Linked DNA regions of Homo sapiens: region 2 is linked to region 1. A link means that fine-mapping ties the variant in region 1 to the expression of a gene that starts in the linked region. Tissue or cell type: nucleus accumbens. Region 1 holds a variant in brackets; the other region holds the start of a gene. All regions are shown on one strand. Distances are between the middles of the regions.

Region 1 (8,349 bases):
AAAAACAGAAAAAAGCTTTAGATTTTTAACTAGGATGTGGAAAAATACACAGGAACAGAAGTTTATTTAGTTCCACAACCATGACAGCAGTCCAAGTGAATTAATTCATAATACTTTCAATGTTCATTATTATAAATTCACTTTTCACCTAAACATTGGACAAAAAAGGATTGCATGTTCTCCTATGTTTAATAGACCCCTAAGCACACTGTCAATGATTCCTAAAACATTACTTCTAGGTCCAATATGGAAAAAGCCATGTTCCTGCTGATTTTCACTACAGGAAAAGGCGGCCTGCTGATTCCCGCCCTTCTCCTAGAAGAACAGTATTCAAGTACGAACAATACGTCTTCCCATCCCTCTGAGTGTAACATGGCCTTCCGCCGGTGACCTTTCCAATACACCAGCACAAAGGTACACCTGTGACCCTGCTGCTCGGCTGAGCATCACATCTGCATGGAGGACAGTTGCCAGGATGTAGCAATGTGGCTGTTATCCAGGAACTCTGTGACAACATCGCATCACGTGCTGGCCCCATTCAATTTATGAGCAAAACCAAAGCCCTGAAGACTTTAATGACAGGAAGGAGGACTGTAGCTACTCCTATTACTAGTGATCAGAGCAAAATGAACCTTGCAGAGCCAGAAGCTATAAAGCCAATTGGCTAAACTCCACAGAAAACTGATTCTAAGAATGTTAATTGAGCATAAATTAATGTGAAGGCAGTAATGATCCATGTGAATTTCAGATGATTGACTATATCATTAATCTCCAAAGCATGAATAATGTGAACCCTTCCCTTCTCTTCTAAATGAACACTGAAAATACAGAAGAGCTAACTGGATATTGGCATAGGGAAAATGAAGAAATAGGTGAAAAAGTAACAGATCAACATCTGGGTTACTACAATTCAGATGATCATTATGTTGATAACTTTCTGAAAAAGCCTACAGATGAAGCATTTAGAGTAAAGCTGTTTCTTATATATAATATTTTTATTGTCTTAATTGTAAGATATATTTTATGTATTGAAATGTTCACACATACTATCCTTAAAATCTTATTATTTGTTGCTTTAGGGATTCCCATTTTAAGTGCAGTGGTATTAATTGTTCCTTCTGTAGCTTCTCCCCACTTGTCACTAAAGTACTTAAGGTGACTCGGAAATAGTAAAAAATATGTGTTACCATGAGCGTGCATGCACACAGCGTACGCGCGCGCGCGCGCACACACACACACACATACAATCTACAAAATAAAAAAAAATTACTAGGATCAATCATTAAGTGTTGCCAGGGCAGAATCGGGGAGAAAATTTAGTTAATATAAGATAAATGGGTTGGACTGGCAAAAATCATCAATATCTCATGGATGCATGCTTTGCTATTGAAAACAGGATAAACTTGGTCTTAGAGAAGGTCAGGAGCTATTTTGCTTCTTTCCCACTGACTGATTCTAGCCCAGACACCCAAGGTACAAAGCAACTAGAAATCGGGACACCCAGAACTTCACTACAGGGATGTTCTATTTTGAGACCATTTGCCTCCCACTTCTCCAGCCTGCACTCCACGTCTCTCTTTCACCATATAACAAGCATAACCTACTGAGATGGAAAATGATCACAGGTAAAGTGCTGCATGAGATGATGAAGTCAGGAAGGGTCTAGGAGTCATACAGATTGATGATTGCAGTTTCTCCCTTGCTCAATGGAAAATGTCAAAGAGCTAAGTATCAGAAGAAGGAGAAAATTATAGCTCTGGCAACAAAATGACTTTATAAGAGAATATGCATCTCTTAAGGTTAAAGGGAAAAACCTACAAAGAACCATGGGGTTTGTGGGAAAAATATGAGAGCACAAAGTAAGTGAAACAACATCCAAAAATGGTCACAGAAATCATATGCCCTTGAACAACAGAGGTATCATTTAATCAGCTGGCATTTTTTGCAGGCTAAATGACAGCTGATTTCTCTGAAATAAATGCAAAAATCCTAGCAAAGGAGATCCCCAGATGAAAAACTAACATAAAGTAATTACAAGTATGACCGTTAGGAAATATTTCTGGAGAGAGACAAAAATGGAAAAAGAAAGCATAATTAAAATATACATTTGTGCTAGTGGAAACTACAGTAAGTCCAGTCAATGTTGTGAAAGACAAATTTGAGATACTTTCCCAGAATGCAGAAATGAAGAACCAAGAATAAAATGAGAGCCAATACAGCTATGGGAGATGATAGATAGAAATCTATTCTAAAAATAGCAGATTTACTTGAGAAAAAGCCAGAATAATTAAAATAGAAAAAATACATTAAGAACAGAAATAAAGTCTGTTCAAGAATTTTAAAAGCCAAGCTAAACATATCAAACCAAAGAAAACCCTAACCTTTCAGATGAAATGAACCCATCCTTTTCTCTATGTCTTTATAAGATACCAATCTAGATATTAACAAAGGTTTTAATTAAAATCATAATAGTGAATTCAAATGATGGGAATGATCTACTTTAATGTTGAGAAAGGCCCACACATCATAGCCTGATCTTATCCTCCCTCACTTCATTCCATTTCCTAGAGGAGTGAACTGAGCCTCAGACAAGTTGCAAACCCTAGAAAGAATGCTGACAAGCCATGGACTGATTGATTTGGTAATGGAGATGCTATCAATCTAATCACCCTTACTTATGTCTCACTCTGAAATTAAGACAAGTGAATTTTCATAGTCCCCTATAGGTGGAAAATCAGCATAAGCCATGGATACAGCTGAGATCTAGGAGCCAGAGCCACGTGGCTCCATCTAAAGTAACCCAGAGGTGGGTTCATAATACCAGTTCCTACAGATGGTGTCTTGATCCCAGCAGGAGAGCTCAGATTCCATAAATTCCGTAACAGAAGACTGAATGTCCTGAGGCCTTATGTCAATTGTATATACAATAGTCAACATTGCAATTGAATGAATAATACTGTTCTAAAGATTGAGTAAAAGGTAGCTCCCTGAAGCCAGTTGTTTCTATGCAGCTGAGCACAGAAAGCATGCTTCTAAGAAAGGATATTAAGACAAAATTCCCTCCTGCCATGTTCCCCATCATTCCCTTCGATGTAGGTCTTTTATTCTAACCCACTGGCATCTTAAGAGGTTGTTAAGTTATTAGGCTGGTAGACATTTTGACATCCCTCAAATTAATTTATTTGAATTTTACTTGAAAGTGGGCCAAGATGAAGCTGAGTTATCTCTAAGAATAAACATAAAGATGCCTTTAATTTTTCCAAAAATAAAAAAACAGCAAAAGAGGAAAAAACATTATGTTTATCTAGAAACAATTTTTAAAGTAAAAGCAGTGTGTATAAGAAATTATGTTGTCAGAAGACAATGTCATTAATAATATATCAAAAATAGTATTGGTTTCTTTTCTAAGTAACCCTTGGATTAGGATGGTAACCCTATTTATGTTATTTGTATGTACAATAACATGCCTCAAAATCTCTTATACAATCTGAAATATTAAGCTTACAACATTTAGAGTATGTGTATAGCATATAATAGTAAAATGTGATTGCATGTTTAAAGTGTAGCAATTCAGGAATCTGTTTCTACTAAGTATTATATTTTCTAGCAGAATGAGCAAAAATATTCATTTCTACACTCATTTCTTAGTGTCTCTTATCTCTCATTGCGCCCATGTTGAAGTGAGCAATGACAAAAAATAATTTTCCCCCAACAGATGAAGGTGAGTATGCCGTTGTTTGTTTGCTAGCTTTTAAATAACTGGTAAATTGTAGAAATTTCGCTGTCTTGAAATCAGTTATTTCTGTCTTCCTTGGATGCCGTATCACCATACTGTTAACTTTGATCTCTGAAGGGAGAATTCCAAATGCCATTTTTCTCTTTCATCTCGATCACATCTTTATCTGCTTTCCATTCCCAACACATTTGTAGAATGTCTCCTTTGCATGAGGCACTATCGTGGTCACTGAAGGAAGAAAGTAATGAAAAAATAAGA[A/C]AAAGATAAGAAAATATAAGAGGAGATGTGCTATCAAGGCGAGAGGTGTGTCAAGAGGTGATGCTAAGCCTAAGATAATGAGACAATAGCAGAGAGAATTAAGCAGAGAGAACCTTTTGGGGGAATATAATATTTTACCTAAGGAAAGATTTATGTGATGCTTAAAGGGTCAGAGATAATTAAAAGCAATGGGAAGAAAGGAATTCCCCTTAGAGCAGACAGAAAAGATAGGGAGAGGAGGGTTAAAACTATCAGGAAGTATACAAGGAAATGATTAGCGGATTGATGTTGCTGGGATGTAATGTTTGAGGCAGGGGTAAATCATGATAGAGCCTATACCATGGAATTCTTCACATCAAACTATTCTATTACTTAGCCACTTTCTTTTTCCTTCGAGTGCTTGTTACTATCTGGCATATATTACATATTTATGTATGGTCTGTCATTCTTTTTAGGATGTTATCTTCACAAGCACAGGTTTTTCTCTATCTTGTTCACTACTCCACCCTCAGTACTTGCAACAGAGATTTGCACAGAGTAGGCGCCCAGTCCTTCATAGAGAAATGCAGAAATGAATGAATAAATTGAGTGCTTAAAATCTTATCTTTCAAAACCGTCTTCTGATTTCAATTACTTTTCCTGTTTTAGCACAACCTAAAATACAGTCAAATTCTTCATGATTTCCAATCACATCAATATTTTTATTAAATTGTTTTACCTCTATGACTTGACTAATTTATTGCCTGTAAAGAGAATGTCTTTTGAGTGGGCCTCCAGCTAACATGCTGATTATCTGCAGTTATAAAACTTCAAGACAGAATTAATCATCTATAAAGCATAGTTTTTAAGAACTTGAACTCTAGATTCATATAGCCAATAGCAGCTTCTCTATTTACAGTGTGTCCTTGGGCAAGTTACTTAATGTCTCCATACTCGTGTTTCCTCAAATGTGAAAGAATGTTACCCACTTCACCATTACTGAGAATATCAGATTGTACAAAATCTGTGAAACTCTTAAAACAATACACAATTCATAATACATTTTTTTCTTGTATTAAAAGTTCTGTATATGCCTGTCCATAATCATTATTATTGTACCCAAGCTGAGGACACAGATTAGGACTTTAAAATTTTCCTATCTACTTGTCTAATATGATGTTCTATATATATTTGGGTGATTTACAAATGAATGCTAATTTATTGAGTTAACTCTTATAAGTAGGCCATGCACAGTGGCTCACGCCTGGTATCCCAGGACTTTGGGAGGCCGAGGCGGGAAGATCACGAAGTCATGGGATCAAGACCATCCTGGCCAACATGGTGAAACACTGTCTCTACTAAGATACAAAAAATTAGCCCAGCATGGTGGTGTGCACCTGTAGTCCCAGCTACTGGGGAGGCTGAGGCAGGGGAATTGCTTGAACCTGGGAGGCGGAGATTGCAATGAGCTGAGATTGTGCCACTGCACTCCAGCCTGGCAACAGAGTGAGACTCCAGCTCAACAACAAAAAACTAAATTAATTAATTAAATTAATTAAATAAAAATTTGTAAGCAGGACTTTCTTTTCAGCAATAGATCCATTCAATATACATAAAATGGTTTCATAATTTTTCAAATTCACCACAAATTCAAGCAAAAAAAAATAAGGTAAACCATTAAATGTATGAGGATTGTTGAAATTTTTCACTTGTGCAGGATATATTTTATTCCTATGAATCAGCAAAGCTATTTCCACTTAATTCTAAATAAAGGCACCTTGACATTTTTTTCTTTCAAAATAATGTACCAGTTATAACATTTTCAATTCTCAGTGGTATAACTTGTAAATAACTTTACTTTGCTTTTAGAAATTCTGCTAACATCAGAGCAGAGATGTTATAGGTAGAGTGGGTGTGAGTTTATTCAGTGTTGTCTAAACTGGTTATGAAAACAATTGCACACTCTTATGTGAGAAGGGATTTCATCTATTCTGCCAGTTTTTGTAAATAACACATTTTCAAATACTACACCTACTGCAGAATGAAAAAAATATTTGTAGAGAATATTTTATAGATGTTTTATAATGAAAGGACTGAAGCCAAAGAAAGCTAAATTCATTCATTCATTGTTTCATTTATACATTTACTCATCAAGCGTTTGTTGAATTTCTATAGCTATTGCTGGCAAGAGAAAAAAGTAAAAATGTAAATAGATGAGAAAAAATTCCTTGTGATGCTGTAAGTGGGTAAGATTAGAGGCAAACTCAATGTACTGTGAAGACAAACGGTGGATGGGATGGTTGAGTAAGTAGTTGATCTTTCATCTGGGGAGTAGAGAATGATTAGGACAGATTTACCAATGGAAGTAATTCCTGAATAGCCTCTAGAAGAAAGGGTAGAAATGATTATGGTGAGTAATGAGGCAAGAATATTCTAGGCAGAGGAAGCTGCATGTGCAAAGCATGAAGACATGGAAATGCATAGATTTAGGGAATCACATACTTGGGGGCCAAGGAAGTAGCAGAAATCAAGGTGTAGACAGAGGCACAGACTAAGTGGAAATATCTTAAGTGCAATGATCTGTATGTATATAATTCTAATATTCCAATAAGAGCCTCCTGATTCTTAGAATCATATTCTTTTCATAACACAATTTTTCATTTGTTTCCAGAAATTTTAATCGAGCCTGCGACAGGCTATGGTAATAAAGTAAGGCATACTCTTGAACCTAAAAGTATATGTGTGAATCAAAGGTAGAAGATTCCAAATGAATCACCCGGAGCCTTGACACAAAGTAGAAGAGCTTCCTACGTTCTCCTCAGGGATGTTATATATTTGAAAGACCACAAAACAAAAGAAACAGAGGCTGGAATTTCACTCTCTGAAATTTCCTCAGAATCACGAAGTAAGAGGTGCATTTTATAAGTTTGGTTAACTGTTGTGTCTAAATCATATTCTGGTCACTGTCAAGAAGTTATATGAGGAACATGCTTTATTTGGAATTTACTTTGCTTGAAAGAGGCCTAGAGTTTTCTTAGCTATAATTTTATAATCAATTATTATTTAAAAAATATTTTCTGTAATCTATTTTTTGACTGGCTTTAATTTTTAAACTGGCCTTAGTTTTTCTTATTTCTAATCAAACTTTTATTTTGAAATTTTAATTTCTGAAATATAAACAGTGTAATATTGTTCCTTAGAACTCTTTCATTCATATGAAGTTTTTGAAAAAGTGTGTGTTCCTATAATGATTCTACTTCTCTTAAAGTCCTCAGAGACAGCCTTTATTTTGCATTTTCATGCAGCTCATCTTCCAAGCTTTTTACTACTATTAAATACAAAGTTTGGTATGTAGTGGATAATTATTTTTAAGGTCATATTTAAGTTAATACTCAATAAAATTGACCTTTAATGTGGCATACAGTTCTATGAATTCTCTCCTGTGCCCATGCTGATGTAGCCACCAACTCCGAAAAGAAGGCCGAACAGTTATATTCCATTCCCCCATTCTCTCCTTCCATCTCTTTACAGTCCCACTACTTCTCACTCCTACATCCTGTCAACCACTGATCTGTTTTCCATCACTGAAGTTTTATCTTTTTAGAGATTAACACACACATGGAAACATGGAGGCTGTAACTTTTTGATACTGGCTTCTTTCACTCAGATTAAAGCCTTCGAGTTTGATGTAAGATGTTGTGAGTACCAAAATAATGCACACATTTTAATTGTTTAGTAGTATTCTATAGTCGGGATGTATCATAATTTGCTTATCCATTCAACCATTGAAAGATATTTGGGTTATTTCAAGTTTTTGGCAATTATGAAGAGAACTGCTATAAACATTCATATGTAGGTTTTGTATAAATCTAAGTTATTTTTCTGGGGTAAACACCAAGCAGTGGGATTGCTGGGCCATATGGTAAGTGAATGTTAAATTTAACATGAAACTACCAACCACCTTAAAGAGTGACTATATCATTTTCATTTCCCAATGCAATGTATGAGAATCCCAGTTGCTCTTTGACCTCACCAGCACCAGGAATTGTTAATACTTTTTTTTAGTGGGAGTTATTCTAATGGGTTGTAGCGATATCTCATGATTTTCATTGACTTTTTCCTAGTGATTTTGATTTTAAACATCTTTTCACATGTTTACTGGACTTCCATGTCTTCTTTCGTGAAACATCTGTTCAAGTCTTTTGCCCTTTTTAAATTTGATTCTTACTGCTACATTTTGAGATTTCTTTATATATTCTGAATACAGCTCCCTTTTCAGATATGTGGCTTGAACATATTTTTGCTCTTTCTATGCTCTTTAAAATTACTGTTAAAGTTAACTTCTCAAAGTTAACTTTAAAAGTTACTGTTAAAGT
Region 2 (8,349 bases), 24 kb after region 1:
TTCCTTCAGTTATCTACTCCAATACCACCTTTCGAGTAACCCTGTCCATATCCCTCAACTAAAATAACAACATCAGCACTCCATCTCATCTCACAATTTTTATGCAAATTACCTTGCCTAATTCTTCTCCACGTGTCTCATCAATATCTGACACATGATGTATTTACTGGTTTGTTTTCTGCCAGTATTCTGTTTCCCCGTTAGAATAGAAACTCCATGAGGACAGAGAATTGGTGAGTCACAAGATGTATCTCTAGCAACGAAGACATAGCCCTGCACATACTAATACTTGATAAATATGTATAGGATCATTAGATAAGTGAATGGACATAGGTAAAATGTACATGAAAATGAAGGATTTTTCTTAGTTTGGTGGTTAAATCATTATTCTGTGTCATTTCATCAGAGTTTAGCAGTAGACTAGCCACCTTGAATTTCACATTCTTTCTCTACTCCATGATGCAATGTATTGTCAAAGAGAGATGAAGAGCTTGATTAAATTATTATGTGCTGATTTGTGCATAATTGAGTCAAATAGAAAATAACTGATATATTAATATTTATATGAACATCTGGGAACTTGTATATAATTCTGTCTAAACTTGAAACCATTCCCCTGAAATTTACTTGTTAAAAAAGCCCTTTCTAATGTTTTATTTGTTAGTAACTGCCTTTATTGTCAAGCCTTTAAATGCTATTGCTATGTTAGCACATTGATACACATAGACATGAACAGTTTTCCGGAGGGCAGTTTCACAAGTAGAATTAATTTTAGTCAATTTCACTTTCAAAGCTTCAAACATTATCATGAATCAAGAGAAATGCAATGCCTGCAAGAAACCACCACCTACGACACAGTATCGCTGTGAATTCTGAGCATATGCACTCTAAATACCAGGTTTTATGTCATTGCATTTCCTGTCTGGCTTTGAATGAATTCTGCCTTACAGGACTATTAGCAAACAACAAAAATGATAGCACTTCACAAGCCAAGGAATAACTAACCTACTTAAATATGTCTTCCTTTTGGATAGATTAAAAATGCCAGCAGTTAAGCAGCTGATGTATCAGCACGTATGGCAACGGAGGGATTTTTGCAGGCATATGCACTTAATCAAATATTACTTTTCCCATCACTGCCTAGAATCTATGTAATTTAATTAACTTATGCTTCAGTGGCATTTTGGAAATGAAGTGGATCTGAAGTAAGCATTGGATAGGATCTACTTAGCATTCCATCACGGAAAAGTGATGCATAAATTTAAATCTTTCGATAATATTATGCTTTGATTTAAATTGGTTTGAAAGATTTTGGACTGTTTAGTAAGTTTGCAATCCTTAAATAATTAGTCACAGCCACGTTAGAAAAAAATGGGTTTTCATTGAGTTTTGATACTGGATTAAATTTACAAACTTATATGCCTGTACACACACACACGCGCACACACACACTCAGGCACATACGTATCTGGGTATGTATGTTCATGCATATGTTCACATTTTTATTGAGGTAGAATATGAAGAAAAGAGCAAATATTATAAGTATACAGTTTGATGACTTCAAAAATTGCACATAAACACCCTAATCAAGAAACAGAAATTCATCCATCCTCACAATTCCCTTCATATTTCCTTCCAATCACTAATCCTTACCTCTTCTCATCAAAGGGATCTGCTCTCCTGGCCTGTAATAGCATAGGTTTTACTTTCTTTTTTTTTTTTTTTTTTTTACTATATTTATATATAGTCCATATTTATAATCATGATTTTCTTCACAGAAAAGCATCAAAGTATAGAGATGTTTGTCTCACAACTCTCAGCAAGCTACTTAGCCTGAGATGGGATCACTTAAAATTTACTTCCATTTCTCACAGAATTGTGTCTCAGTGTAGTAACTAATTTCAAGATAAACTTTGGGGTCACGTGCAGCACTTAAATAGTTTGGAAATAAACACTTCCACTGTTCAATGATAAAAATCATTGCTCTCTGGGATGCAGAAAGTTTTCTACTCTTTGAAATATATTGAGGCTTCTTTGTAGGAGAAGGAGTCAATCTGATAATCATACCATCTTATAGATAAGTATTATCCCATCTCAAAAGGCACATGGTACATCATGACATGCCTTTGGTGAATCATGACAATGCAATTTTAGACACAACTAAGAACAGCAATAGTCTCCTGGTTATAAATTCCCTTCAGGCAGTGCCAGTGACAGTTGTATAGGGCTCCATTGGTGGTCACTCTCACTAAATAACATGGTTGTCATTTGTCCAAATAGTCTCCTGAGAAAACCAGTTTCTCACCTTAGGGAATTCTCCTCCTGAAAACATTCTGTTAACTGCATGGAGATGATAAAACTACATGCAAATACAGCAAAGCAGCACTCTCCATAGGACTTTCTAAGACAACAAAAATTCCCTGGCTGGGCACGGCCCCTGTAATCCCAGCACTTTGGGAGGCTGAGGCAGGCAGATCACCTGAGGTCAGGAGTTCGAGACCAGCCTGGCCAGCATGGTGAAACCCCATCTCTACTAAAAATACAAAAATTAGCCAGGCATGATGGTGGGCGGCTATAATCCCAGCTACTTGAGAGGCTGAGACAGGAGAATCTCTTGAATCCAGAAGGCAGAATTTACAGTGAGCCGAGATAACGCCTCTGCACTCCAGCCTAGGCCATAGAGCGAGACTCCATCTGAAAAAAAAAAAATCCCTGTCCCCTGTGTTATCTAATCCAGTAGCCACTAGCCACATGACCACGAATCACATGAAATGTGGCTGATGTGACTGATGAAATGAATTTTACATTTTAATTTTAATTAACTTTAAATCTAAAAAGCCACGTGTCTATTTTTTTGGACAGTAGAGCACGATTCATATTAGGAATTAAACAGTGATCTTTATATTCTCATTCTTATGATTTCCTTTCATAGAAATACAATCAAGTACCTCCAAATTGTCAAAAAGACAAATTTAAAGTTGATATGAGTGTTAGAAACTAAAACTCTACTATTTTTCAATTTACCCCACTTTCCAGTTCCCTATGTCAACAAATCAAACACAGTATTTTTTAAGGAGTTGGAAATGTCTAGAATTTTTTCCTCTTTATTTAAAAAATTACATCACACTTTAGGAAGCAAGTTCGATGTGGTTTCTATTTTACAAAATTTAAATCAGAATCACTATTATTATACCACATATAATTATAATGACAATGATGCCAACAGATAAAAGCTTGATCTGAGGATAGGAGGATAGAAATACCATTTCTCAGTGTATTTTTCGGTGAAGGTCAGGCTAGAATAAGCTTTGTTGTCACTGACATCCGTCAATTTTGCCTGACAGCCCATATAATTAAGTCAGGGGCTATCATTTTAACCAGCATTAAATGTTTTGATGACACTGATAAATTCCAGTGTAAAAAAGACATTGAAGCTTTAGGGAGACAATACAGAATGTGATGGAGCATGTGACAGTTGCATGTATTAATAAGGAAATCTGGATCATTAAGACCTCCAAGGGAAGTTTTCAGCCTGAACGATCCATAGCTGCTGGCATTAGTCAATCTAACTACATAATTTTTAAATATCTCTTTTCTTTTCTTTGAGACAGAGTTTTGCTCTTGTCGCCCAGGCTGGAGTGCAATGGCACCATCTCAGCTCACTGCAACCTCTGCCTCCCAGATTCAAGTGATTGTCCTGCCTCAGCCTCCAGAGTAGCTGGCATTACAGGTGTCCACCACCAAGTCTGGCTAATTTAGTATATACAGGGTTTCACCATGTTAGCCAGGCTGGTCTCAAGCTCCTGACCTCAGGTGATCCACCCACCTTGGCCTCCCAAAGTGCTGGGATTACAGGCATGTGCCAACGTGCCTGGCCTAAATATCTTTTCTCAAATCTTACCCACCTGCTGTAAGGTAGGGCTGTAATGATCCAAAGTGGAATGACCATCTAGAAATTTCTTGATTATTCCATTAAACAATCAACTTGGGGTTTATTGCTCAATTACTATTTGCCTAATTTTGCCATATGGACTGTGATTGAAACAGAAGAAATATAAGAAAGTGATTTTTTTTTCTACTCTTGATGAACTTGTGATGTTATCTTAAAGACAAAATACATTTAAAAATTAGAGAAAAAGACTTTTCTATGAGAGTAAAGGCTATGCCTTTAGTTTGCACTCACCTTATTTTCTCTGGCTATTATTTTGGAGTCTGGCAACTAGCACCCAAAAATATTTGTTTAACAGATGTTGAATTAATAACATTTAATTAGTAAGACTGCCTGAAATGTCAACTTCCTATAATACCATCAAGGTTACATCACTCATATATTCAGAAAATATATTGCATAAAAACAAATTACAAAAATTGAAGATAATTCATTTGCACAGGTTTAGTGTTTGAAACTTTCCACAGACTTGCCTCCATCAAACTTCCAGAACTCACTTCCATTTCATCCCTCTAACCTTTAAATATGGATTGTTTCACTTGCCAACATCCCCTTGGCTGCATCTTTCCTTCAAATCTCTATTCAAGGCCAGGGGCAGTGGCTCAAACCTGTAATCCTGGCACTTTGGGAGGCCGAGGCAGGTGGATCACTTGAGGTCAGGAGTTCGAGACCAACTTGGTCAACCGGTGAAATCCATCTCTACTAAAAATACAAAAAAAATTAGCCGGGCATGGTGGCACGCACCTATAGTCCCAGCTACTCGGGAGGCTGAGGCAGGAGAATTGTTTGAACCTGGGAGGCAGAGGTTGCAGTGAGCCGAGATCGTGCCACTGCACTCCAGCCTTAGTGACAGAAGGAGACTCTGTCTCAAAAAAAAAATAAAAAAATAAAATAAAAATTCTATTCAAGGCACATCTGACCTATAATGGTCCAAACTCACATGTTGTCTGTCCTTCTAAAGAGAGTAGCCTTTTATCATTTTTATTATATATGTGCTGCATAAGCACATTTCAGTCAACAAGGGAGGTGAAAGATTCCTATTGCCTGGTGATATAGCCATTGTGATGTCAGAGCACAATGCATTACTCACATGTTTACGGTGATGCTGATGTAGACAAACCTACTGAGCTGCCAGTCATATAGTATGCATAACCAAATATAGCCTACATGATTATGTATAGTACATAATACTTGGTAATGATAATACATGACTAAGCTACTGGTTTAGGTATTTACTCTACTTTTTATAGTTATTTTAGAGTATACTCCTTCTGCATATTAAAAAACAAAAATTAACTGTAAAACAGCTTCAGACAGATCCTTCAGAAGTTATTCCAAGAGTCGTTGTTATCATACATGATGACAGCTCCATGAGTGTTACTGACCTTGAAGTCCCTCCAGTAGTACAAGATGTGGAGGTGGAAGACAGTGATACTGATGATCTTGACCTTGTGCAGGCCCAGATGTTTTGATTTTTGTTTTCTGAAACAGGGTATCACTGTGTTGCCCAGGCTGAAGGGCAGTGGAGTGATCATGGCTCACTGTAGCCGTAAACTCTTGGGCTCAAGCGGTCCTCCCACCTCAGCCTCCTGAGTAGTTATGACCACCTGTGCATGCCATTATACCTGGCCAGTTATTTTAAATGTTTTGTAGAGACAAGGTTTTGCTATGTTGTCCTGGTATGTCTCAAATTCCTGGCCTCAAGAGGAGGAGGCCTTTTCCCACCTTGACCTCCCAGAGTGCTGGGATTACAGATATGAACCACAGTGCCTGGCAAGACTAGGTTAATGTGTGTTTGTGTCTTCGCTTTTAATAAAAAAGGAAAAAAAAAAAGAAACTAGATAAAAGCTTTAGAATAATATAACAAAAAAATCAGGTATAACTGTACAGTATGTTTTAAGCTACATTTATTATAGAAAAGTCAAAATGTTAAAAAACAAAATTATAAAGTAAAAAATTACAGTGTTAAGGTAAATTTATTATTGAAGAAAAAGAAATATTTTTAATAATTGTTGGGTATTCTAAGTGTATAGTATTTATAAACTCTACACTAGTTTACAGTAATTTTCTCGGCCTTCACATTCACTCACCACTCACTGACTCACCCACAGTAACTTTGTGGCCTGAAAGCTCCATTCATAGTAATTTCCCTATAAGGTGTACTATTTTTTATCTTTTACACTGTAGTTTTACAGTATCTTCTCTATGTTTAGAGACACAAATACTTACCATTGTGTTACAATTGCCTACACTATTCAGTACAGTAACATGTCATACAGGTTTGTAGCCTGGGAGCAAAAGGCTCCACCATGTAGCCTTAGGTGGGGAGTGGGCTGTATCATCTAGGTTGGTGTAAGTATGCTCATGATGTTCACACAATTATGAAATCACAGAAACATGCATTTCTCAGAATGTATCTGATATGGTTTGGCTGTGTCCTCACCCAAATTTCACCTTGAATTGTAATAATCCCCACATGTCAAGGCAAGGCCAAGTGGAGATAATGGAATCATGGGGACGGTTTCCTCCATACTGTTCTCGTGATAGTGAATAAGTCTCAATCTGATGGTTTTATAGATGGGAGTTCCCCTGCACAAGCTTCTCCTGCCTGCTGCCATGTAAGACGTGCCTTTGCTTCTCCTTTGCCTTCTGCCATGATTGTGAGGTCTCCCCAGCCATGTGGAACTGGGAGTCCATTAAACCTCTTTCCTTTATAAATTAACTAGTCTCAGGTATGTCTTTATTAGCAGGGTGAGAACAGACTAATACAGTATCCCCATCATTAAGCATGGCATAACTATAGTTACTCATTCTTTCTTCCTACTGATTTAGAATGTTCTTAAGGATGAGAACTATTTGCTCATTTTATTGATTATTCACCCACTCAACAGTTCCAGTTTAAGTGCAATACAATCGTGGGTAAAAGTGTACCTGACTTCCACTCTAATGGAAGTTATAAATTACAAGTAGAGACATTTATCAAGTATTCATTCAAATTGGTGCATAAACTAAAATTTAATTATATAACTAGTAGTATTTAAGGGGGGAAAAAAACCCTGGCCAAAGCTGGAAAGAAGAATGGTGTTAAAGAATCTTTTACTCTACAAGCAATGCTGCAAAAGAGGTAAGTCACTTAAGGATTTTGAGCTTAATCCTAACTTCAACAAGAAGTGGTTAGGTAGTATAAAAAGCAGAGAATGGACAAGTTAATTTTTTAGGAGATTCTTCAGGCTACCTAATGGAAAAAAATAAGATAGGGGCGAGTGGGAAGCTAAACAGCTTTTAGGAGGAGAATTAACTGGTCATTTAAGCAATTCAAAAGAGAGATGTTGTTAGATTAAAACAGAATGGTGGTTGTGGACATGTGGACATAAGACACGTTTGAAATGTATTTTTGAAAGAAAACAATGAGACTTGTTGGTGGAAAGGATATGGGGCAGTGTGTCAGGCACAAGCTGCTACGCACCCAACATCAGGAATTTTTTTTTTTTAGGCAGAGTTTTGCCCTTGTTGCCCAGGCTGGAGTGCAATGGTGCGATCTCGGCTCACTGCAACCTCTGCCTCCAGGGTTCAAGCAATTCTCCTGCCTAAGCCTCCCAAGTACCTGGGATTACAGGTGCCCACCCCGACACCCGGCTAATTTTTTTGTATTTTTAGTAGAGATGCGGTTTCCCCATATTGGCCAGGCTGATCTCAAACTCCTGACCTCAGGTGATCCGCCCACCTCTGCGTCCCAAAGTGCTGGGTTTACAGGTGTCAGCCACTGCGCCCAGCCACAGAATGTCTTTTTATACTTAGCCTCCCAACATCAGCTAGGTATTAAAAATCCACTTGTCTTCAACCCCCTTCTTCTCTCCCAATAGAATTTGATTTTTTTTTCCAGCTAATGAGAGTTCAGTAGATCTTAGAAAAGAAAGGAAATGATCCCCCATCTCAGCTCCAAGAGATGAACTGTGATTGTCTAATTGAACAGTGCCATGATAATTGAATTCTTTTGGTTTGTGGTTGATCCACAGTGGTCATGCAGCCTAATTCTGGAACGGGAGATGTAAGCAAATGAAAGTTCAGTAAGGTTTCTGTGAAGGGTTTTGCTTTCCGGATACAAAGTGACAAACTCAACTGGCCCAACTCTTTTCCCCTTTTTGCGCATACATGTTTGTTAGTTTCCCATTGCTGCTATAACAAATTACTACAAGCCTGGTGTCTTAAAATACAAAAATTGGCCAGGCGCGGTGGGTCATGCCTGCAATCCCAGCACTTTGGGAGGCCAAGGTGGGCGGATCACGAGATCAGGAGATCGAGACCATCTTGGCTAACAAGGTGAAACCCCTGTTCCTACTAAAAATACAAAACATTAGCTGGGCATGGTGGTGGGCACCTGTAGTCCCAGCTACTCGGGA

Direction of the effects. Alleles are on the strand shown, and positions count from the first base shown. SD is a standard deviation of normalised expression in the study named.
For the expression in nucleus accumbens of the gene that starts at base 4,968 in region 2, A is the low allele of the variant in region 1 and C is the other (large effect, 0.82 SD a copy in GTEx).

The links. PIP is the estimated chance that this variant, and not a neighbour inherited with it, causes the effect.
Region 2: it holds the start of GPC5-IT1, and the variant in region 1 is fine-mapped to the expression of GPC5-IT1 in nucleus accumbens (GTEx, PIP 0.98).

Annotation. Positions count from the first base shown.
Region 1 is chr13:92,505,128-92,513,476 of GRCh38, reverse strand. All of the region lies in intron 7 of GPC5 (glypican 5), which reads right to left. GPC5-IT1 (GPC5 intronic transcript 1) reads right to left here. Exons shown (of 2, transcript NR_046779.1): 2 at 3,157-3,964. Among named protein-coding and RNA genes, the nearest start is that of MIR548AS, 19 kb to the right of the region's middle. The variant A/C (reference allele first, on the strand shown) is at 3,995.
Region 2 is chr13:92,481,222-92,489,570 of GRCh38, reverse strand. It overlaps GPC5-IT1 (GPC5 intronic transcript 1), which reads right to left and starts at 4,968. Exons shown (of 2, transcript NR_046779.1): 1 at 4,890-4,968. The region is part of intron 7 of GPC5 (glypican 5); the gene reads right to left.